Homo sapiens: one gene and its partners. The protein of the gene in region 4 interacts with the protein of the main gene of each other region in a pairwise test. Each region holds a gene or a part of one and is shown on either strand. Other genes may lie near its edges.

Region 1 (3,500 bases), on a different chromosome or scaffold from region 4:
GCTGTCAATTTCTCGTTTAGTGTTGCAAGTCTTGAACGACAAGACATATCTGAGAAAAAGAGACTGGTGTTCAGGATTAATGTCACTCCAAACACAGACACAGACACACACAACACCTACAATGAAAAAGAGGAATAATACACAGAATACAAATGGAAATGGATACAGTGCTAAGATCCACTCATAGCACAGTTGCTTAGAGTGGATCTGCTGAACTTCCTATCAAGTGTTGCAAGTAGAGAATAACGGCCCCACAAAAACGTCCTTTCCTGCAGGGCACGGTGGCTCATGCCTGTAATCCTAGCACTTTGGGAGGACTAGGCGGGTGGATCACCTGAGGTCAAGAGTTCGGGACCAGCCTGGCCAACATCATGAAACCCTGTCTCTTACTAAAAATACAAAAATTAGCCAGGCATGATGGCACATGCCTGTAATCCCAGCTACTTAAGAGGCTGAGGCAGGAAAATCACTTGAACCGGGGGGGGCAAAGGTTGCAGTGAGCCAAGATCTCGCCACTTCACTCCAGCCTGGGTCAAACAGCAAAACTCTGTCTCAAAAAAAAGTCCTTTCTCTAATCCCTGGATCCTGTGAATATGGATTATACATGAGGAAACAGGGCTTTGCAGGTATGATTAAGGTTAAGAACCTTGAGATCCTAGAGTTTGTCTTGGATTGTCCATTTGGGCCCAATCTAATCATAGTCCACAAATGTAGGTGAGAAAGGCATAGGAAGGGGGTCAGAGATGAAATGGAAGAAGAAAAAGAGATTCCAAGTGTGAAGGGGATGCAATCTGCCATTGTTGGCTTTGAAAGTGGAAGAAGGGAGCCATGAACCAAGGGATGTAAGTGACCTTTAGAAGCTGGGAACAACTCTCAGCTCACAGCCAGCAACAAAACAGAGATCTCAGTCCTACAACCACGAGAAACTGAATTCTGCCAACAACCCAATATTCGAGGAACTAGACCCTCTCCTAGAGCCTCCAGAAAGGAAGGCAGTCCTGCTGAAACCCTGATTGGAGCCCAGGCCAGGAGCAGTGACTCATGCCTGTAATCCTAATACTTCAGAAGGCCAAGGTGTGAAGACTGCTGGCCAAGGTGTGAAGATTGCTAGCCCAGTGACCAGTGTTTGATTTATGACCTACACATGGTAAATAATAAATGTATGTGGTTTAAGCCACAAAATGTGTGGTAATTTGTTTTTTTGGTTTTTTTTTTTGAGATGGAGTCTCACTCTGTTTCCAGGCTGGAGTGCAGTGACGCAATCTTGGCTCACTGCCACCTCTGCCTCCCGGGTTCAAGCGATTCTCCTGCCTCAGCCTCCTAGGTAGCTGGGACTACAGGTGTGCGCCACCATGCCCAGCTAATTTTTTTTTTTTGTATTTTTAGTAGAGACGGGGTTTCACCATGTTGGCCAGGATTGTCTCAATCTCTTGTCCTCGTGATCCGCCCGCCTTGGCCTCCCAAAGTGCTGAGATTACAAGTGTGAGCCACTGTGCCCAGCCTGTGTGGTAATATGTTATGCCAGGAATAGCAAATGAATACACCAAGGCTGTACAGCCATTTACTAATGGCCTAACTAAGACTTTCAAGAGAGGGGACATGGCAAGAATAAGAAAATAATCTCAACAGGAAAGAAACGAGGCTGGGCGTGATGGCTCACGCCTGTAATCCCAGCACTTTGGGAAGCCAAGGTGGGCAGATCAACTGAGGTCAGAAGTTTGAGACCAGCCTGGCTAACATGGTGAAACCCCATCTCTACTAAAAATACAAAATTAGCTGGGTGTGGTGGCGGGTGCCTCTAGTCCCAGCTACTCGGGAGGCTGAGGCAGGAGAATCACTTGAACCTGGGAGGCGGAGGTTGCAGTGAGCTGGGATTGCACCACTGCACTGCAGCCTGGGTGACAGAGTGAGACTCCATCTCAAAAAAAAAAAAAAAAAAAAAGGCCAGGCACGGTGGCTCAGGCCTGTAATCCCAGCACTTTGTGAGGCCAAGGCAGTGGATCACGAGGTCAGGAGATGGAGACCATCCTGGCTAACACAATGAAACCCCGTCTCTATTAAAAATACAAAAAATTAGCCGGGTGTGGTGGCGGGCGCCTGTAATTCCAGCTATTCGGGAGGCTGAGGCAGAGAACTGCTTGAACCCGGGAGATGGAGGTAGCAGTGAGCCGAGATTGCACCACTGCACTCCAGCCTGGGAAACAGAGTGAGACTCCGTCTCAAAAAAAAAAAAAAAGGAAAGAAAGTAGAGGCCAAGAAAGCAGCAGAAATTATGGGGAGGGAAGGTGTGAGAGTTCTGAGCTCATTAAAGCCATGTCACTACTGTTGCTCCTAGAGGCAAAGGCCTTTCAGAACTAGAGAAAAGTTGGAGAGCATCAAATACCCGATAAAGCCCACATTCCATCTGTGAAAACAGCCAAAATTATTCTTCTTCCTCTAGCTTTTCCAATCTTCTTTTACCATCTCATTCAAAATGAAACCAGATTTAATTTAAAACAACTTTTTCTCTGCAAACTTCTGTAACAGGAACTATTCTTTTTCCAACTATTCTCAACATATGAGAGAAAAGGTATCTTAGCATGGTCATTATCTTCTACTCTCTCCTCCAACATTGTTGTTCAGTCATCTCTCAATAAACTTCAGTTTTCAAGTCTGAAATATTCGCTGAGACTCTCCCACGCAATGATTTAACACTTAGCTAACAAGTTTCCTTTTCATCTATTCCCTGGCTGTTTTGCAAAAGCGCTTCAGCATCCATTTTGACAAATCTTCCTACACCCTGATCTTGCCTCAACTTTCATCTTATTATGTCCAAATCTTACTCATCTTGCCTGCCTATCTCCTTCAAGGCTAAGTTCAAATTCTATCTCTGAGAGGTCTTGCCAGATGGACATAATAATTCTTCCTCTTCTGTATTTATCTAAACATTTACGGATGAATTTTTTTTTTTAAAAGAGACATGGTCTTGCTCTGTCACCCAGGCTAGAGTTCAGTGTTGCAATCATAGCTTACTGCACCCTCCAACTCCTAGGTTCAAGTGATCCTTCCACCTCAGCCTCCCGAGTAGCTGCAATTACTACTCAGTAGGTGGATGCCACTGTGCCTGGCTAATTTTTTTGTTTTTTGTTTTGGTAGATATGGGGGTCTCACTTTGTTGCCCAGGCTGATCTCAAACTCCTGAACTCAAGCAATCCACCTGCCTTGGCCTCTCAAAGTCCTAGGATTACAGGCGTGAGGCACCGTGCCAGCCTCTGAATTTCTAATTTGTAAGTTATTCATGTACTTGGTCTTTGGTTATGACTTCCCTCTTTGGATAAAGATTTTACAAATAAGAATGTGCATCACTACTATTTAAGATGGTGAAAAAGCAACAAAACCAAATGCCCATGATTGGAATGGTTTGATATAGCGTATTAATGAGACTATTAAAATAGCCATTGAAAGTTACAAGTGGCCAGGCGCGGTGGCTCATGCCTGTAATTCCAGCACTTTGGGAGGCC
Region 2 (2,164 bases), on a different chromosome or scaffold from region 4:
ATTAGAACACTGACCTGGGCTTCACCTCCTTCCATTCGGTGAAGAAGGGCGAGGAATTTTAGCCGCAACAGCAGCCTGATTGTCGGGGAAGGAGGCTCTGATAGGAGGCAGGATCCTCTTCTGCCCATCAGAGGCGCGGTGGTCTCCCATCGATCGTTGTGGGCCGGAGCAGGGCATTTGATCAGTGGCTGGGCCGGCGCTAAGCCCCACTTCACCTTCTGTGCCCTTCAGACCGGCCAGTGGTGGCCGAACTTGCTGCCTCGCCCCCTGGAGGCGTGCGCCCAGGAGGAAACTTCACGTTGACCTGCCGCGCGGAGGCCTGGCCTCCAGCCCAGATCAGCTGGCGCGCGCCCCCGGGGGCCCTCAACATCGGCCTGTCGAGCAACAACAGCACACTGAGCGTGGCAGGCGCCATGGGAAGCCACGGCGGCGAGTACGAGTGCGCAGCCACCAACGCGCACGGGCGCCACGCGCGGCGCATCACGGTGCGCGTGGCCGGTAAGTGGCAGCTGGGGAGAGGCGGGGCGAGGTATCTGAGAGGGGGCGTGACCTGGGTCTTGGGGCGGCCGGCCCCGCCTGCCTCCCTCTCGGTCCCGGTAGACTAGACGGAAGTGGGACAGAGTAGAAGTCAAAGGTGCCTTAGCGGGTGGGGCTGTTGATCGCACTTTGAGGGGTGGGAGATGGAGGTGGCAGGGGGACTGAATTCAAGGGGAGGGACCCTCCGGGGCTGTCACTGCTGCAGGAAAGGACTTTAAAACTTGGGCTGGATTCTGCGTGGTGGAAACTTGACCCAATTCACAATCCACTGTGGGGAAGATTGGGGAGGGACCAAAGTCATTGGATGTTGGAGGGAGAGAGGGGTCAAGATCGCCTTCTCTCACTTCCTGAAGCTCCTGGGGCTGGGTTCTCTCTGGGGTCGGGGGAACCTGACCTGGTCCTGCCGGTCCTCATTTTTTGGGGGATGGGGAGAGTTGACTTGTCGCCAGGGGGCTAAGTGTGGTCACGGGTTTATATCCCCATGGGCTGAAGTGCGATATAAATCGGGACTCGGGTCGCCCTGGCACTGGGAGTGGCCTTATTGCATGGGTTGTCTCCCTTCTCCCAAGGCCAGACAGTGAGCTCCCCGGGGCATGAGGACTGACTTCGTGCCTGTGGGAGTGCGGGGGGCGGTGGGAGAAGCCCCCCGGAGCTTGGCCACCCTCCGCGAGGGTCTCCACCCCGCAGGTCCGTGGCTATGGGTCGCCGTGGGCGGCGCGGCGGGGGGCGCGGCGCTGCTGGCCGCGGGGGCCGGCCTGGCCTTCTACGTGCAGTCCACCGCCTGCAAGAAGGGCGAGTACAACGTGCAGGAGGCCGAGAGCTCAGGCGAGGCCGTGTGTCTGAACGGAGCGGGCGGCGGCGCTGGCGGGGCGGCAGGCGCGGAGGGCGGACCCGAGGCGGCGGGGGGCGCGGCCGAGTCGCCGGCGGAGGGCGAGGTCTTCGCCATACAGCTGACATCGGCGTGAGCCCGCTCCCCTCTCCCCGCGGGCCGGGGGACGCCCCCCAGACTCACACGGGGGCTTATTTATTGCTTTATTTATTTACTTATTCATTTATTTATGTATTCAACTCCAAGGGCGTCACCCCCATTTTCTACCCATCCCCTCAATAAAGTTTTTATAAAGGAACTCCCTGTCTCCGCTTCTGTTTCTGCAAGGTGGAACAAGCCCAGGGTTCCAGTCGTGACCTCCCGAGTTATTCATTCAAAAAGCGATTTTTGAGAGGGCCTGGGGTGGTGGCTTAGGCCTGTAATCCCAGGACTTGTGGGAGGCCCAGGTGGGAGGATCCCTTGCACCCAAGAGTTTCAGACCAGCCTGGGCAACATAGGGAGACCCTACAAAAAATATTTTTCAAAAATTAGCCAAGGCCGGTCGCGGTGGCTCATGCGTGTAATCCCAGGACTTTGGAAGGCCGAGGCGGCCAGATCACGAGGTCGAGGTCATGAGATCGAGACCATCCTGGCCAATATGGTGAAACCCTGTCTCTACTAAAAATACAAAAATTAGCTGGGCATGGTGGTGCGCGCCTGTAGTCCCAGCTATTCGGGAGGCTGAGGCAGGAGAATCGCTTTAACCCCGGAGGCAGAGGTTGCAGTGAGCCGAGATCGTGCCACTGAACTCCAGCCTGG
Region 3 (3,500 bases), on a different chromosome or scaffold from region 4:
TCACTCAAAGTGAAAATGACAGACACCTCTTTGTGAGCCACCCTTACTCCCACAAAGAATGTTCCAGACTCCACACAGTTCTCTTCTGGAGCCTGGAGGTGCAAGCTGTCATCGTAGATAGAATCCTCTGAAAACAAACTTAATATCTTAAAATCGTAACATTTTTAACATTACATAATTGGAAGATCCGACACGGGAACATTTTTGCCCACAGGTTTGAGCAGAATCTCGTCTCGGCTCCCTTCCCCAGCCTGCCTTCTTCACGGGTCCGCTGGGCCATCGGTGTGGTGACGCTGCTTCCTGGTTTCTCGTGGCAGCAGAAGGGCCGATCACCACAGGCCCAGACAGAGAGCTCTGCAGTGTTCTATTCATAGAGGCAGACTCCTCATAGTTTTTAAGTTTCGTTCTTTTTCCATCTCAGGAGTTGAATTTGTTTGGACCTTCTTTGCAGAAAAGGAGACTGAACTTTTTAATCCCATGTCAGAGGAAGGTCTTGGGTGTACATTGCAGGGAGCAGAAATTGGGGCTTTAAAAAGGGGATCGTTCCCTGGTCATCGAGTTCAGGTGGGGGACCAGCCCCTCCACACTGTCCAAGCAGAGGCTAGACGCCATCCAACGTAATGTTCTAGAATATTCCTTGTCTTTTAAAGGCCCTCTCAACCAGGTGGTTGTGTGTGTTCTAGGCAAAAGAATGTGCATGGCTTTGAGTAAGACAGGATTTCAGATTTATTTTTACCAAGGCCACCCCCTTGCTACCGTGGCGGTCGTGCGTGAAACTGGTGGTGAGCAGTGGCGGGCCAGGCCACCTTTAGTTGTCCTGCTGTTCGCAAGGCCCCCATACGGGGATTAACTGAGCAGCCTGCCGGCTGACGCACATGTTGACTCGTGTAGCTGTTGATTTTAGCCAGCTGGCCTGGCGTCATACTACAGGGGCTTGCCCCAAACAAACCCTGGAGTAGGTTGGTTTTCATAAATGCCCTCTGGCTCTCTGGCAAGCGTTGGAAATGCCCTCAAACCCTGTAGTGCCTGGTCTTCCCTGGCCATCTCCTGGCAGTGTGAGCGCCTCTCTGCTCATGTAGAAGGTTGTTGACCCCAGAGAGAGCTAGGGGAGCTGTTAGCTGCTTTAATCGTTTATTTGCTTGTTATAAAACAGAGATTAAGTGGACTGTCACAAATATACATGAAGCAGCAGAGCTGTTCCCCCACGTGTAGACGTGCATGCACACACTCCTAAACACTTCCGTTTCTTCCATGAGCCTGTCCTTCTCATCTGTGGAAGGCTCAGTCTGTGTAGACATGCATGCACACACTCATAACACTTCCGTTTCCTCCATGAGCCTGCCCCTCTCCTCTCATCTGTGGAAGACTCAGTCTTCTGGTTGTTTCCAGGTGTCCTGGTCCTCCAGAGCTGATAGCCAGGCTGTTGGCAGGTGAGGGCCACATTCTGGTGTTGTCACCTAGTTGCCATTCACCTGGGATCCCTCCTTGGCCTTCTGGTGGGCCTGGTGGAGAGAACCTGCCCCAGGGGATTTGTGGGGTCTGGTGCTTCCCCGAGGCCCGGAGCTGATGGGGGGCTCCAGCCTGGATGTGTCATGTAGCCCCTCAGTGGGCCCTGGACATGCAGCCAGGCTTCCCTACCCCCATGTGGGGCCGCCCCCTAGGCGTCCACTTCCTGGTGTTGGTCCAGGCCCCTGGCACTTCTGAAGATGCACAGAACCTGCTTTGTATGCCACGCCATGCTGTGTGAGCACTGGCACCATGGCCACTTTGTCCCCCATCCCCTCCAGTCCCTCTGCCTGGCTGCCCTGTGTTCTGGCAGGGCTCAGGGCCTCTGAGTTCTGCACAGACCAGGAAGGCATGAGGGCTGGCCCTGGGTGGCAGCGCTGCTTCACCCCATCCTGAGGCTGCTCCCAGCATGCCTCCCTCAGCCCTCTGCTCCTCTTGGCTGTGGTGAAGGCCAAGAGCTCTTTCTGACCTTAGCGCTGCATGCAGAGCAGGGGAGCAGGACCCACAGGTCGGGGGAAGGCAGCCTTTGGCCTTGACTATGGGGAGGTAGGGGTGCGCTGGTGTGTATGTGTAGGTGCACACGTGTAGGGGTGGGTGTGCATGTGTGAGGGTGCACGTGTGGGGGTGGGTGTGCACGTGTGTGTAGGGGTGGGTTGCGTGTGTGTGAATGTGTATAGGGGTGGGTTGTGTGAATGTGTGTGTAGGGGTGGGTTGCGTGTGTGTGAATGTGTGTGTAGGGGTGGGTTTGAATGCAGGTAGGTTGCGTGTGTGTGTAGGGGTGGGTTGCGTGTGTGTGAATGTGTGTGTAGGGGTGGGTTGTTTGCGGGTAGGTTGCGTGTGTGTGAATGTGTGTGTAGGGGTGGGTTGTGTGAATGCGGGTAGGTTGCGTGTGTGTGTGTAGGGGTGGGTTGCGTGTGTGTGAATGTGTGTGTAGGGGTGGGTTGTTTGAATGCGGGTAGGTTGCGTGTGTGTGAATGTGTATAGGGGTGGGTTGTGTGAATGCGTGTGTGTAGGGGTGGGCTGCATGTGTGTGTGTAGGGGTGGGTTGTGTGTGTGTGTATGGGGTGGGTTTGTGTGAATGCGTGTGTGTAGGGGTGGGTTGCGTGTGTGTGTGTGCACGTGTGTGTACGGGCAGAAGGTGGCCTGGCAGCTGCTTCTCAGGGTCTCCGGCCATAGGGAGGGCAGCTCACCCGGCAGCCCCGTGCAGCTGAACGGTATTTTTGCTGGGAGAGTGGTGCTGGGCCCTCTGCCTGTGTCTGCACTGAACTCCCTTTCCCTAATGCTTGCTCTGCCACCCCTCCGGGGACTGCCTGCGGCTTCTCCTCCTCGTAAGGATCGCCATTTCCCTTCATGGAGGCTCAGGGAGGTGACATCCTTGCTGTAGTGCAGAGCTGGGTCACAAAACCAGCTCCCAGACAGGCATCTCAGGGCTCCGTCATCTCTTCATGTGGGTGACCCTGAGGGGAGGGAAGTGGGGAGCCCGTGGGTCCCTCCAGTGCTGGAGGTCTTGCAGGGAGAGAAGCACACATGCATCTAGTCACGCTGGTAGAAGGTGGGGAGCCAGGCACGGGGCAGAGGGGGGCTCCAGGCCCAGAAGAGGGAGGGCTCACAGGGACCGCGAGCATGGGGAGGGCCACCTGGAGAAGGGGGGAGGGAGGACCACTAGGATGGGGCTGGTGATGGGAAAACGCAAGGGTGCGGGTTCCTTTTGCCCAGAGGCAGGGTGGTCAGAGGGAGGCGTGAGATGGGAGCAGTGGGGGTCCTGTCCCAGCCTCGTTCCCACGTACCATCTTTCCCCCAGGTGGTCAAGTACCCCCTGCACGCCATCATGGAGATCAAGGAGTACCTGATTGACATGGCCTCCAGGGCAGGCATGCACTGGCTGTCCACCATCATCCCCACGCACCACATCAACGCGCTCATCTTCTTCTTCATCGTCAGCAACCTCACCATCGACTTCTTCGCCTTCTTCATCCCGCTGGTCATCTTCTACC
Region 4 (4,136 bases):
GTGGCACCATCTAAGCTTACTACAGCCTCAACCTCCCAGGCTCAAGCGATCCTCCCTCCTCAGCCTCCCAATTAGCTGGGACTACAGGCGCCAGCCACCACGCCCGGCTATTTTTTTTTTTTTTTTTTTTTTTTTTGGTAGAGGCAGGGTATTACTATGCCTAGGCTGGTCCGGAACTCCTGAGCTCAGGCGATCCGCCCACCTCGGCATCCAAAAGTGCTGGTATTACAGGTGTGAGCCACCGCGCCCAGCCTGTTTGGGGATCTGGCTAGCATCTGTTTCTCTCCTGATTTCTTGGAAGGTCAGATAAAGATCCTAGCTTTGGCGTGGTAGTGTGAAACTTCAGCATGAGTAACCCCATTTTGGTTTGGTCTGATGGGCCTAATGCAGGAGGTCAGTCTAAACTAACGGTCTCCCATATACATTTTATCTAATAGCTCTGTCACCCTTCCTGCACACCCGGGGAACTCGGGTGCGGCATTCTAACGCCTGCTCAGCATGATTCCACATTTTCTCCAGGCCCATAATCCAGAGGAGGTTGGGCCCGGAGCAGGCTTGCCTCGCCAAGCTCCGGCTCCGTGCGTGTGTGAAGCAGTGCCATGCCTGAGTGGGGAGGAGCCGCGGAAGAGAAAGCGTAAGGCGGCGTGGAAATGGGTGGGGCACGCTAGGACCCGCTCACATTTGTTCAGGGAGAGGCAGTCCCAAAAAGCCTCTCAGGCACACAACCCAGCACAGCAAGGCAGTCACACCAAGGTGGGAAAAGAGGGCAGAAGAGCGCGAGGGGCTGGAGGTGGCGCCCCTGTGTCCCACTCGTTCTCCCTGGGCTGGGAAAGAGAAGCGGTCCCTCAGAAGCGCAGGCTGCGCTAGCTTAGGATGGACGTGGGTAACGCTCAGCTGACTCCCCGCAGGCACCCTATGCAGGGCTTTGTTTCGGGGGGGAACCCGCACCAGCGCGTAAGGGGAGTAGGAGAGATCTACGTGACCCTGGTGCGCAGCCGCGCCCTATCGCCCCGGCCACGCGCCGACGCCCCGCCCCGTCCGTGACGCGTTCGCGCGGGGCCTCCGCCCCATCCCCCTCCCAGGCGGTCCCCAGCGCGCTGCCTCCGCCGTTCCCCGCCCCCTCGCCTCTGAGGCTGCCCGGATAGCTGCCTGATCCAAGGCCCAGCAGCTTCTGCCTTCCGGATCCCCACCGACGGACGGAGGCAGCCCACCTGCAGGACCGGGGCGCTGTCGGTCCACGTGGCCGCTCTGGAGCAGGTTGGAGTTGGCAGCGGGCTGCGCTGCAGGGACAGGCGCGGCGGACAGCCCCGGGGGCAGCGGCGGGGTCCTGTCTGGGAGAGGACAGGGTTGCGGCGGGCGGAACGGTGTCTCCTTCACTTCGCCCTCCAGCTGCTGGAGCTGCAGCCCGACCGCGAGCGTGCCAAGCGGCTTCAGCAGCTAGCGGAGCGGTGGCGGCGGCCCCCCTCAGGACACCACCAGGTACCGCCGCGCCCGCCTCACGCCGACCCAGGGGCCTAGGCCGCGGCGGCCAAGCCGGAGGCCCGCGCCGGACTCGGAGTCGGCCCTGGCTTCCTAAGATGGCCGCGCTGCCCCGCGGCCCCTCGCCCCTCTCTGCCCGGGATCTCCCTTTGGCCCTTTGACCCCAGCTTACCGCACTTCTTGTCCCTCCCGCAGATTCCCCTCTTCCCGCGGCCTCGCCATGGCGACCCACGGACAGACTTGCGCGCGTCGTAAGTAAAGCTGGGATCTCTGCGGGATGGGGCGGCGGAGAGTCGAAGCCTGTCGACCAGAAACCCAGTTTGTTTCCCCCTATCTTTCCAAGAACTTGGAAATTCGGCTGCTTTTGGTGGTCGCCCCACCGTCTGACCACCTCCTCTGCGGAGGAGGGGCTGGGCTGCTGGATTTCAAATGGGGAACAAGGCCCGGGGAGTTGGTCTGTGGCCGCATGGACTTTTCAGCCTTTGTACATGTCTTTGACGTATAGAAGTAAAAAGTTGTTAATTGGGGATTCTGCCTTTGGAGGATCGGATCAATCACTTTTCTAGAGGAAGTAGCAGTCCCTCTTGTGAGAGCGCAAGGTCATTACTTGTGCTCCTAAGGGCGTGGACGTGCTTTGTGGAATGAATGAGCTGGTGTAATGAGCTCAGATTGCCTGCCCTTAAGCAGCACAGCATTGGCCGAGGACTTGAGAGTCACATTAGTAAGTTTGAAGCGCTATTTGATATTTAGTTGATGTAGACATTTGAGTGAAACACACATGGCAGTATTTTTTCCAAGTTTCAATATTTAAATTCCCAGTATTAAATTCTCTTCCCACTCCAGGGTGTTGGTTTTCCCCTCAGCGAAGATATTAAAGGACGTATCAGGGTAAAGGGCCTAGTCTTAGGTTTCGGTTTTATCTAATTTAGTTAAATCAGCTCATCTCAGTGAATTTTGGCAGATACATAAATATCCATACACACAAATACTTGTTTGATTCTTTGTACTTGTCCAGTCCTAGGAAGTGAGGCTGTAGGTAATAGACTGTTTTTCCGTTTTGAAACGAATTCCCCAAGTTTGTATAATCATGGTTATCTGTTTTAGAAATAATTCGTTGGTGGTATCTCCTTTATGGGTCGTTATAGTTCTATTGTAGCTCCTGACCGCATAAAAAACATTCCAACAAATGGGATTGCTTGAATTTTAATATCAGCAGTGGGTCATGCTCTTGTTCTTGGATAGAAGGTGGGAGAATAGAGACATTAACACTGGAATGTTTTTTTTCTACCAGCAATGTGTATTCCTCCATCATATGCTGACCTTGGCAAAGCTGCCAGAGATATTTTCAACAAAGGATTTGGTAAGAACCTTATTTTTAAAACGTTTTAGATAAAGAGTGAAAATGTATGTTTGGGTTGCTTAGCGAAATCAGATCAATCATTGCAAATTGTAAATATCTTGCTGCTTTAAATTTAGAGTTACTTATTTTTTTGAGACAGGGTCTCCCTCTGTTGCCCAGGCTGGATGCAGTGGCATGATTATACCTCACTGCAGCCTGGACCTCCTGGGCTCAAGCGATCATCTTTCCTCAGCCTCCCACGTCCCAAGTAGCTGGGACTACAGGCACGCTCTGCCACACCTGGCTAATTTTTTTTATTTTTCGTAGAGGTGGGGTCTCACTGTGTTACCCAGTAAACACAGTGGCCTCTCAAAGCCTGGTTGGATTACGTTACAGACATGAGCCACTGTGCCCAGCCTTGTATTAATTCTTCTATTAGAAACTTAAGATACTTAGATTAAACTTATGTGAAAATAGTTCTTTTACAGTCTACATCCCCCTCCCCCAATTTCCCAAAATTTTTAAAAACTGTACTTAGAAGATTTGAGCCTTTAAGAAAAACGGCTCGTGCTTTAATTTTTTTTCAGTTATAGCTTAGGCCCTGGTTGACTAGAGTTACGATATATTACTGTTTTGCTTTTGTGGTGACTCCTAATACTTTATCTAGAGTTATGAGCTTTTTCAGGTGAATTTGAGTTTTCTTGAAAATTTTGTTCCATACCCTCCTCCCCTTTATTTAGACTGTTGGAAATACCCCATTGGCATAAATGTCCTAAATGTCTGTATTATGATAAGTTGGTTTTGTTTTTGTTTTTTTTTGAGACGGAATCTCGCTCTGTTGCCCAGGCTGGAGTACAGGGGCGTGATCTCGGCTCCCTGCAGCCTCTGCCTCCTGGGTTCCAGCAATTCTCCTGCCTCAGCCTCTCTGGTAACTGGGATTACAGGCACATGCCACCATGCCCAGCTTTTTTTTTGTATTTTTAGTAGAGACGAGGTTTCACCATGTTGGCCAGGCTGGTTTTGAACTCCTGATCTCAAGTGGTCTGCCTGCCTCGACTACCCGAAGTGCTAGGATTTCAGGCGTGGGCCACCGCACCTGGCCATATCATGATAAGTTATTAGCTATTCTGAAATTTCAGTTGAATGATTTTTTAATCTGATATTTAAGTTTAAGAATAGTTTGGGGGCTGGGCGTGGTGGCTCACACCTGTAATCCCAGCACTTTGGGAGGCCGAGGCGGGCAGATCACGAGGTCAGGAGATCGAGACCATCCTAGCTAACACGGTGAAACCCCATCTCTACTAAAAATACAAAAAAT
Region 5 (3,500 bases), on a different chromosome or scaffold from region 4:
GGCCGGAGTGTGGTGGCGATCTCCACTCAATGCAAGCTCTGCCTCCCAGGTTCAAGCGATTCTCTTGCCTCAGCCTCCCGAGTAGCTAGGATACAGGCTCCCACCACCACGCCTGGCTAATTTTTGTAGTTTTAGTAGAGACGAGGTTTCACCATATTGGCCACGCTGGTCTCAAACTCCTGACCTTGTGATCCGCCCACCTCGGCCTCCCAAAGTGCTGGGATTACAGGCGTGAGCCACTGCGCCCGGCTGAGGTAAAATTTAAAGTGTACAATTCAGTCATTTTTAGTATATTTATACTAGTTGTACAGCCATCACCACAATCTAAGTTTAGAACATTTTCATTAGGGGGTGGGAGAAATTTTACTCTGCTTTTTAGATTAAGTTTCTGTCTGGATCTAATCATTTAATCAGACAATCAGGCAGATTGTCTGTGATTAGTTTTGGCCATTCCAGCTTCTTCATTGGTTGTTAACTTTCACAAATAAAGGCTGCTCAAAGATTAGAAATAACATTTAATTTGAATGTAAATGTGCCATAGTTTAAAAGATGGGTTTGGTGAATACAGTCAAATACATACATTTAAAGCTCTAATTCTGAAGATTATGTAAAGAAAAGGAAAGAAATGTAGGGAGAGGATTGAAATGTTCATGGTATAACAATATCTGAACATCCATCTGGTCACACCGTTGGTATTTGAATGTTTTGTCCTCCTCAAATTCATATGTCGAAATCCCAACTCCCAAGGTGATCGTATTAGGAGGTGTGGTCTTTGGGAAGTGATTAGGTCATGAAGGTGAAGCCTTCATGAATGGGATTCGTGCTCTTATAAAAGAGAACTGTGAGAAATAAGTTTCTGTCGTTTGTTAGCCACCCAGTTTAGGATATTTTGATATAGCAGCCTGCATGGACTGAGACAACTATGAGTTATTATGATAGCTTCTGTTATTTCACCTAAATTCATAGAAGCTAATATATCAATATTTATGCTATGAAATATTTCTTAACCAAGCTTTGAATATATTTATATTTTTGTTTATTTTTAAATTTCAGATTCCAGATGACCTGAGGAAGAGACTAAATATAGAAATGCATGCCGTAGTCAGGATAACTCCAGTGGAAGTTACCCCTAAAATTCCAAGATCTCTAAAGTTACAACCTAGAGAGAATTTAGTGAGTTCAAATATATATGTTACATCAAAATTCTTTTACACGTTTTGTAAGATTTCTAGTTGCTTTAGCTAAGTAATAAGAATGTTGTATTCCTTTTTGATACAAATCTTTTTTTATTGTGTTAAACTATATATAACATAAAATATGCCATGTTCGCCATTTTTAAGTGTATAATTCAAAGGCATTAATTACATTCATAATATTGTACAACCATCACCACTATCTATATCCAGAACTTTTCCATCACCCCAAAGAGAAACTTGGTACCCATTAAACAATAATTCCCCGTCCACTCCTTTCCCCAGTCCCTGGTAATCTCTAATGTATATTGTGTCTCTATGAATTTACTTATTCTAGATATTTCATATATAAGTAGAAGTATGCATTTGTCTTATGTATCTGACTTATTTCATTTAACATAATGTTTTCAAGGCTCATCTGTGTTGTATGTATCAGAATGTTATTCCTTTTCATGGCTGAATACTATTCCATTGACTGCATATACCACATTTGTTTATCCATTCATCTGTTGATGGACACTTGGGTTGTTTCCACATTTTTGGCTGCTGTGAATAATGCTACAGTGAACATTGGTGTACAAGTATCTGTTTGAGTTCCTCTTTTCAGCTCCTTTGGGATATACCTAGGAATTATGTTTAACTTTTTGAGAAGCTGAGAAATCTTTAATAAATGATAACACAAATACTTATATTTGCCAATGCAAATATGAATATTTTTGGCTTTTAAGAGATTGATCATTTTGCCACGTGGTTGTAATTAAAAAAAATTGTCCCATGTTGTTTCAGTATTAATATTGTAGCCTAAAAGAGTGCTAGACTGTTTTACTTTTTACTCAGTTAATTCTTTGGATACTGGTAGAGTCAGGAAATGAGATATTGAACTTAAAGATCTTTGCAGGTGGGGTCCAGTGGCTCACACCTGTAATCCTAGCACTTTGGGAAGCTGAGGTGGGAGGATTGCTTGAGGCCAAGAGTTTGAGAATAGCCTGGGCAACATAGCAAGACCCCATCTCTACAAAAAAATTAAAAAAAAAATTAAGCCAGGCGTGGTAGCTCACGCCTGTTATCCCAACACTTCGGGAGGCTGAGATGGGTGGATCACTTGAGGTCAGGAGTTGGAGACCAGCCTGGCCAACATGGTGAAACCCCATCTCTACTAAAAATACCAAAATTATCGGGGCGTGGTGCTAATCCTGTAATCTCAGCTACTCAGGAGGCTGAGGCAGGAGAACCACTTGAACTGAGGAGGTGGAAGTTGCAGTGAGCCTAGATCTCACCACTGCACTCCAGCCTGGGTAACAGAGCGAGACTCTATTTCAAAAAAAGTAAAAATAAAAATTAGACACATGTGGTGGCACATGCCTGTAGTCCTAGCTACTCAGGAGGCTGACTGAAGTGGGAGGATCTCTTGAGCCCAGGAGTTCCACACTGCAGTGAGCTATGATTGTGCCACTGCACTCCAGCCTAGGCAATATCTCAAAAAAAATTTTTTTAAATAGATTATTAGGCCAGACGTGGTGGCTCATGCCAGTAATCCCAGCACTTTGGAAGGCCAAGGCAGGCGGATCACCTGAGGCCAGGAGTTTGAGACCAGCCTGGCCAACATGGTGAAACCCCATGTCTACCAAAAATACAAAAATTAGCTGCAATGTCTATAATCCCAGCTACTTGGGAGCCTGAGGCAAGCGAATCGCTTGAACCCGGGAGGCAGAGGTTGCAGTGAGTGGAGACTGCGCCACTGCACTCCAGCCTGGGCGATACAGCGAGATTCTGTCTCAAAGAAAAAGGAATTTGTTTTCCTGTCTTTATCGTAGAGGGAGGAAAGGGAGAATGGGGTTGGAATGGTTATTGAGTGAGCCACATTATGGTAGATGTATCACTGGGCATAGAGAAAAGGAGCATTTAAAACTTTTCCGCCTAACAGATGTTTCTTCAGGCTACACTGCACTCATTGTGCTAACTGTAATGTCAAATCCCAGACCTGTGCCTATAGAACATGAACATCCTTCATTGGATTTGTTTGGTCAGGCTTACACTTTATTAGGAAGATCAGATGTTAAAATAAGGGTGTTAAAGTTAAGTTCAGATATGAGGATAATTCATTACTATTCCTTTTTCTGGCAGCCTAAAGACATAAGTGAAGAAGACATAAAAACTGTATTTTATTCATGGCTACAGCAGTCTACTACCACCATGCTTCCTTTGGTAATATCAGAGGAAGAATTTATTAAGCTGGAAACTAAAGATGGTGAGTACATTTGTTATTTTGACTTTTTTTTCTATTTAAATAGTTGTACATTTTTAATT
Region 6 (3,500 bases), on a different chromosome or scaffold from region 4:
GGTTAAAGAGAAATCTGAAAAACCTCCACATCTTCTCAACTAGCATCCCCCTTTGTAGTTGAAGAACTTGACTGGTTTGAGAAAGTCAAAGCCCTTTGTGAGTAGCATTCTTTAAAGCACATCATAATTTGAAAAATGGAATCTCAGAAACAGGTCCTAAGACTGAGTTTGGATGTGGTCACTGGTATATCCCTTCCTTTCATGAAGAAGTCTAGAAAGCTAAAGCAAGATGGGTAAAATTAAAGTAAGAAAAAGCTTTGGAAGCAGAGATCTCACTTTGGAATTCCATGCAGTGTACATCTCAACATTTGTTCAAGTTATTTATGATTTATGTTAAATGCATAATATTTTCACTAGTTGTTATAATAAAAATTTTCCAGCCAGGCACAGTGGCTCATGCCTGTAATCCCAGCACTTCGAGAGGCTGAAGTGGGTGGATCACAAAGTCAAGAGATCAAGACCACCCTTGGCCAACATGGTGAAACCGTCTCTACTAAAAATACAAAACTTAGCTGGGCGTGGTGGCATGTGCCTGCAGTCCAGCTACTTGGGAGGCTGAGGCAGGAGAATCACTTGAACCCGGGAGGCGGAGGTTGCAGTGAGCCAAGATCACACCACTGCAGTCCAGCCTGGCGACAGAGTGAGACTCTGTCTCAAAAAAAAAAAAAAAAAAAAATTTCCTCACAGTCTTTAATACTGTAAGATGTTATAAAATACCTTTATTAGACATATGCATAGGCACAATTAAATTCCACCAAAACTGTAACTGCTAAAATCTATATAATCCTAAGTAACATATCTGAATGAATACATGTCTTACTGAAGGAAAAACTATTAAAACTGTGAAAACCACTAACCTTTCATAATATAAACATATAAAATACTTAACTGTTCTATTCTACAATATGCATCTAAAATGTCTTTACATCAGTCTTTTCTGTTGAAAATAACACATTGGAATTTGGGAAGAAAAAAAAAAAAAAGTTATGTGGCCAGGATAGAAAAACCTGACCAGAAGAATTGTAGCGAAAACCACAGGAATATTTCATATCACATAAAAGTACCAATTCAAAACTCACCACCCCTTGTATCCTAACTTAGAGAGATCATCAACAGAACCTATGAATAAAGATGTTTAAGTCTCCAATAGCCAATGTGAGGTCACTTGAAATAAAGGACAATTTACTAGTGGCATAAAATACATGCTTTGTACATCGATATATGTTCTCCTATTTTCTGATACATAAGCACACAAAATAACCATTTGATAGTCATTTTCTAGTATCCAACAAGACGTTGCAACTTAGTTTAAGAAAAAAACAAAAAAACCCTTACTACTCTAATTAGCTAAAAGCTACGTAACTACTTCATAACTATGATTATGTAAAAAGGAAGGTAACTATTGGAGACACTTTTTAAAAAATGAAGAAGGAAGCAGAGGAGTCTAGAAGGATAGGGACAGGAATTGCTTTACTTAGTACAATGGCTGTCTATAATACAAATTGCAGAAGCAAATGGAAGCAGTATTATTCTCCACAAACCTGTACAGCTGAAATTGGTTCCAAAAAGTTATAAAGCAGGGTAGACGACTTCTGTGGGAAAATCTACATGAAAGAGTAGCCAAAACTGAAAGTACGCTAGGTTAGGCTGGGAATTTAAGAGAAAGCAACAAATAAAGATGACTAAACAAACTGAATCATGGCCAAAGGTTACATATTGCCTTAGGTTTTTTCTTTTGTAAACAGTAAACAAGATAGGCATTTTAGAAATAGGCTGCCTTTGTACTATAAGACCATGCTCTAAGATGAAATCAGAAATATCTGAAATTAAGGCAAGTATCAAGATAATAAGGGGGAGAGTAGGTCCTGAAAGACATGAAGTGCCCCAGTAACAAAGACAAACAAAAAGTGTCTCTGTCTGATTAGGTTTCACAGCATTGTTTCCTACCTTTTTAGGTGAGAAAACCCCTAGGGTTCCTCCATCTTCCCGAATGGCAACTCCCATCTCAGCCAACAAAGCCTCTCTAGGAAAAAAACAGGTATATCAGAACACTAATACCAAAATGTCAATTAAATCAGTCTAATATGAATTGGAAAATAAAGCCTGCAAAGCAAAAACAACTGGCCATGTTTATAGCCAATAATGCAAACATAAAATAATGTGCTTATCTCATCATTAATGAGAAGTTATTTCTAAAAGCAACATCACATTCAAAATCAATGAAATCTTGCTTTGTTAAAGTTATATTCACTGAGATAAGAACTTTGTCTCAACTGACTTTGGGATAGTCAATAATTCATAAATGATATGCATATTAATATAAAAAAGAAAAGAAGAGGCTATTCCTTTTTTTTTTTTTTGAGACAGAGTCTTGCTGTCACCCAGGCTGCAGTGCAGTGGCACCATCTCGGCTCACTGCAAACTCTGCCTCCCAGGTTCACGCCATTCTCCTGCCTCAGCCTCCCGAGTAGCTGGGACTACAGGTGCCCACCACCATGCCCGGCTAATTTGTTTTGTATTTTTAGTAGAGATGGGGTTTCACCATGCTAGCCAGGATGGTCTCGATCTCCCGACCTCGTGATCTGCCCACCTCAGCCTCCCAAAGTGCTGGCATTACAGGCGTGAGCCACCGCGCCTGGCCAATATGTTCCATTTTTATGAATCCCTAGCAACATGTAATATGGTAACTAATAAACCTGTGACTCCCTAGATAATATTTAAATATGTAGATGTCATTTCAAAGCATAAATTCAACTGGCCATAAATCCCTGTCCATTTTTTTGGTTTCGTTTTGTGTTTTAGAAGGGCAGACTCTTTGATTTTAATTTATATTTTATCTTTTCTTACGATAAAGTAATCCACATCCCCTAGAAAACTTAGAAACATTTCCAGATTTTAACCTCCTGACCTCTCCATTCTGATGGCCTCTGTTTTACGAAGCTTCTCTTCCCAAGTTTCATTCAACTCAGCAATGATCTTCTCTGATTCCTAAGGAAGGAAGCGCACAGTTAAAGAGGCAAAGAGTCTTATAATTTAACATACCATGCTAGAAAAGCAAGAAGCAAATCATGCCCTTTGAGGATACAGGCCAGAATTAAATGTAAAGAGATTTTTCTTTTATTAATACATAAGATAAGAATCATAAAGATTAGACCTAAAACTAAATCAACCCCAAACAAATAAATCCTCCAAGTCTTTTTTTTTTTTGAGACGGAGTCTTCCTTTGTCACCAGGCTGCAGTGGCGCGATCTCAGATCACTGCAACCTCACCTCTGGGGATCAAGTGATTCTCCTGCCTCAGCCTCCCGAGCAGCTGGGACTACAGGCACGTGCCACCACGCCCAGTTAATTTTTGTATTTTTAGTAGAGACGGGGTTTCACCATGTTGGCCAGGATGGTCTCAAGCTCTTGACCTCGTGATCCACGTGGGCATGGTGGCAGGCGCCTGTAATCCCAGCTACTCAGGAGGCTGAGGAAGGAGAATGGCATGAACCCGGGAG
Region 7 (3,500 bases), on a different chromosome or scaffold from region 4:
GGTGGACTTTGGCAAAAATGGTTTGGTTTGCAAGAGCAATGGAGAAAAAACTTATTTAACTTTTCCTACTTATAGAATCAAGGCAGCCTTGCGCTTGTTTAAACTTACTTGGCTATACACGTGTCTGATGTACATAATGTACATTTGTTTTCTAAACTAACTTTGTTCATTCTAAGATTTAAAAACTGATCAAACAAATGTGATAATTCTGTCATAAGTCACAAACTATAAACGATTTCTCCGTTTTTTTCTCTTTTACCTAAAATGTTTTCAGATAAATGTGTAATAAGTAGAGCCAAAGAAGCTTTAAAAAGTCATCTCATCTTACAATCCTTGATCTGGAATAATGCTTAAAGACTATAGAAGAGACGCATTTTTATTTTTTACAGATTTTATTAAGTGAATACAGTACGTTTGATTTGGACATGTTGTTGAACATTAAATTGCAGTTCAGAATACATAGAAATCCTCCCTTTTCTAGAGATTGTGTATGTGTGTAAATTTTTGTGCCTTCTGGTTCATGTACGTTTCCTTCTCTCCCTCAAATCGTTTAGCAGTTTCTTACCCCATTCTCCGTGATGTGCTTATTTCATATTGCATGCCTGTATCAAAACATCTCATATGCCCCATAAATATATATACCTACTATGTACCCACAAAACTAAAAATTAAAAAAAAAGGAAAAAAAAAGGCCTGCAACAAGAGAAGAAGAAAGAAATCAGATACCCTGTAGGTAGCTATCTCCAAAAGTTTTCAATAGTTGACTTAAGAAAACTACTGACTTGTATGTAACTGAAATCAGGAAACCTGTAGTGTAGAGTGGTTCCCCTGAATATGTCTCTTTTGGTAATCTAAGCTGTATTTCAGAAATGTACAGAAAAGGAGCTAAGCTTCTAAATGGATATAGCATATTTTGCATAAATCAAATTTAATATGAATCCATGATTCTTGTATGTGTAAATCTGCCTGCATTTATTTATGTCAGTAGTTGGTAATTATTCATCTTAATTTTTTTTTTTAAATTTCTAGGTGTGCCAAAGAGGCGGCACATAAGGATTTTAAAAAGGCAGTTGGTGCCTTTTCTGTAACTTATGATCCAGAAAATTATCAGCTTGTCATTTTGGTGAGCATTTTTGAGTTGTTTATTTTTAGTTTAATTCATCTGGGGCAATTGCCTTGATAATAATGTTGTTAATTTAAATCATTTAGTCCATCAATGAAGTCACCTCAAAGCGAGCACATATGCTGATTGACATGCACTTTCGGAGTCTGCGCACTAAGTTGTCTCTGATAATGAGAAATGAAGAAGCTAGTAAGCAGCTGGAGGTATGTCACTTTCCCTAGCACTGCTTGTAAGGGTACCTAGGAACGATTAACTGTATCATTCCACAACTTGAATATGGGGAGCTTGTCATTTATTTACTGCTTCTTAACAATTCCTTAGGTTCTATAGTTGGAAAATTGTACAAAGCATAATCATACTAAAGTTTCCATGCCTGAGGTTTCAAAATTAAACAGCAGCTTATGTATATTAAGGGACTTCTGGTACTTTCACTTTTACTAGAAGTTTATCAAAGTTGCTAATAAAATGCGGCAATGCTTCTTCCATATAACATGTTGTCATTAAAAATACTAGAGAATATTTAAATATCTAATCATATTCCTCTCATTATGTATGTTTATCTTTGTTTAAAAGGGTATAGAACTTCTTCATTCTAATTGGTTGTCATTCTTTAAAACTCCTGTCTTCAGATTCCCGCCAGAGGCTATTTCCCTAACTTACTATTTTGTCTCTTAAGGTGCATTTTATCTACTTTTATTAATCCTCCAATAATTTTCATCACCATATATTTGTTTTCATTGATAACTATCAAGTACGTCCATCCATTACTATAGAAACTAAGTGGATCTTAGATGAATGTGCCAGCTCTACTATATTCCTGTCAAATTCCAGAGTTCGTCATCATTATTCATTAGAAGGAAAACACCACACATTTGAAATAGTAAAGAAAAAAAGGAGTTCCAAACTGCATTTTAGGAGAAAAGGTAGTCAAGACTGTGTTCTTATAAAAACCCTGTGAAATTTGCCACCTGTCAACTTGATGTATGATGCTGAACTCTTAGCAGAAGGGGAAAAGTTTAATCTCCTTTTGCCACTTTGTTTTTTCTTAAGGCCATGGAGGTCTGTTTAATTGGTCTTTGCTCTCATTCTTTCTTGATGTCCCTGTGTTCATGATTTTGTGGTTCCTTCAGTGATTCTCTCATAACTTTTAGCCCAGAGCTGCCTCCTTACTTTGATTGTGAGTATTATGAAAATATACTCATATGCCTCTTAAACATCGAATTATTCTTAAATGATCTATCATACTTTTGGCTAACCATTTATCAGTGAATTATCAATGAAAAAGAACGAACCAGATTAATGAACCAGGACTCAAAAAACATGACTTCTTGAAAAGTCCTAGAATTATTTTATAGATTTTATTACTCTAGTCTAAAAAAAATGGGTATTGCACTTTTAAATTATTTATGCTAGTTGTATTCATTCATTCAAATTATCAGGTCTGTTGAACAATGAGAAACTAGTATGCATGCCTATCTTTCTTCACTACTAATATTAAAGAGATTTACATGTTCCTATAAGAAATTCCCATTTTTCAACATGAGCCACTAATACGTTTGGTTTTCATTAATGGCATGCTAGAACTGAACACTAAATTTTGATAATGGTATTTAAAGACAGTGGTTATCCACAAGTTTGGGATGTCAGTGTAACTTAGTTTCGTCATCACTGGATATTTACAAGTGCTCATCATAATTGTGGATCCAGATCACAAGGTCTTACGGACTCTGGTCTCATGTTAGCTTTCAGATGCTTACTAAGTTTTTAATTTTTGACATTTTTTGATTATTCAGTTTAACTACTGTACCAACAATTTTTGATTCCTTAGGTTTTGAGGGAGGTGTCATTTTAATGTCATTTCAACAGAGGAATGTTTAGACCACAGTACCTAATGATGTTATAAAAAATGGCACTGTTTCCAGAAAATATATACTGATACCTTTTAATAAAAATGAAGCGAATAAAATTTTCTATAAAGATGATATTTAAACATTTTTTTACCTAAATAAGTAACATTGAGTTTGTCAGACCGAGTGAGCTGGTTTTTACTGGGGAACATTTGACCTGCTTCTTAGTTATTATATTGCTGATGTCATTGGTTAACTAAGGCAGCCTTGTGATAAGTTTTCAGCAGTTACCTTGGAAAATGTCAACAAGTTCTTTCCTATTAACAAAAACATATAAAATGTCATAGACCTTTAGTAACCTAAAAAGTACTTAGGCTGTGAGAGGTATTTTCTAAAACCTGTTAGTTTTAACCTAAAACTATTAATAATTTATGGACCCCTCATATACAGGGTCAAGATAATTTACATGGCTGGCCTAAATACAGTTGTCGTAATAGTTGATAAAGTGTATTCATCAGACGTCCATTTCT

Evidence for each region.
Region 1: the proteins of VDAC2 (region 4) and BRK1 interact in binary tests that used the Homo sapiens proteins (3 or more experiments, as listed by UniProt).
Region 2: the proteins of VDAC2 (region 4) and ICAM5 interact in binary tests that used the Homo sapiens proteins (3 or more experiments, as listed by UniProt).
Region 3: the proteins of VDAC2 (region 4) and WFS1 interact in binary tests that used the Homo sapiens proteins (3 or more experiments, as listed by UniProt).
Region 5: the proteins of VDAC2 (region 4) and PEX1 interact in binary tests that used the Homo sapiens proteins (3 or more experiments, as listed by UniProt).
Region 6: the proteins of VDAC2 (region 4) and KIF1B interact in binary tests that used the Homo sapiens proteins (3 or more experiments, as listed by UniProt).
Region 7: the proteins of VDAC2 (region 4) and FMR1 interact in binary tests that used the Homo sapiens proteins (3 or more experiments, as listed by UniProt).

The regions. Positions count from the first base shown.
Region 1 is NC_000003.12:10,122,175-10,125,674, reverse strand, and holds part of BRK1 (protein BRICK1), read right to left. Parts: intron 50-3,500; coding exon 1-49. UniProt on the Homo sapiens protein: Involved in regulation of actin and microtubule organization. Part of a WAVE complex that activates the Arp2/3 complex. As component of the WAVE1 complex, required for BDNF-NTRK2 endocytic trafficking and signaling from early endosomes.
Region 2 is NC_000019.10:10,295,115-10,297,278, forward strand, and holds the end of ICAM5 (intercellular adhesion molecule 5 precursor), read left to right. Parts: intron 1-231; coding exon 232-498; intron 499-1,224; coding exon 1,225-1,502; 3' UTR 1,503-1,664; downstream 1,665-2,164. UniProt on the Homo sapiens protein: ICAM proteins are ligands for the leukocyte adhesion protein LFA-1 (integrin alpha-L/beta-2).
Region 3 is NC_000004.12:6,297,350-6,300,849, forward strand, and holds part of WFS1 (wolframin), read left to right. Parts: intron 1-3,307; coding exon 3,308-3,500. UniProt on the Homo sapiens protein: Participates in the regulation of cellular Ca(2+) homeostasis, at least partly, by modulating the filling state of the endoplasmic reticulum Ca(2+) store.
Region 4 is NC_000010.11:75,209,460-75,213,595, forward strand, and holds the start of VDAC2 (non-selective voltage-gated ion channel VDAC2), read left to right. Parts: upstream 1-1,336; 5' UTR 1,337-1,479; intron 1,480-1,674; 5' UTR 1,675-1,699; coding exon 1,700-1,730; intron 1,731-2,022; exon of another isoform or gene 2,023-2,124; coding exon of another isoform or gene 2,125-2,200; intron 2,201-2,770; coding exon 2,771-2,839; intron 2,840-4,136. UniProt on the Homo sapiens protein: Non-selective voltage-gated ion channel that mediates the transport of anions and cations through the mitochondrion outer membrane and plasma membrane.
Region 5 is NC_000007.14:92,511,521-92,515,020, reverse strand, and holds part of PEX1 (peroxisomal ATPase PEX1), read left to right. Parts: intron 1-1,053; coding exon 1,054-1,173; intron 1,174-3,317; coding exon 3,318-3,441; intron 3,442-3,500. UniProt on the Homo sapiens protein: Component of the PEX1-PEX6 AAA ATPase complex, a protein dislocase complex that mediates the ATP-dependent extraction of the PEX5 receptor from peroxisomal membranes, an essential step for PEX5 recycling.
Region 6 is NC_000001.11:10,290,570-10,294,069, reverse strand, and holds part of KIF1B (kinesin-like protein KIF1B), read right to left. Parts: intron 2,989-3,500; coding exon 2,909-2,988; intron 2,024-2,908; coding exon 1,948-2,023; intron 1-1,947. UniProt on the Homo sapiens protein: Has a plus-end-directed microtubule motor activity and functions as a motor for transport of vesicles and organelles along microtubules.
Region 7 is NC_000023.11:147,928,919-147,932,418, forward strand, and holds part of FMR1 (fragile X messenger ribonucleoprotein 1), read left to right. Parts: intron 1-1,029; coding exon 1,030-1,123; intron 1,124-1,209; coding exon 1,210-1,326; intron 1,327-3,500.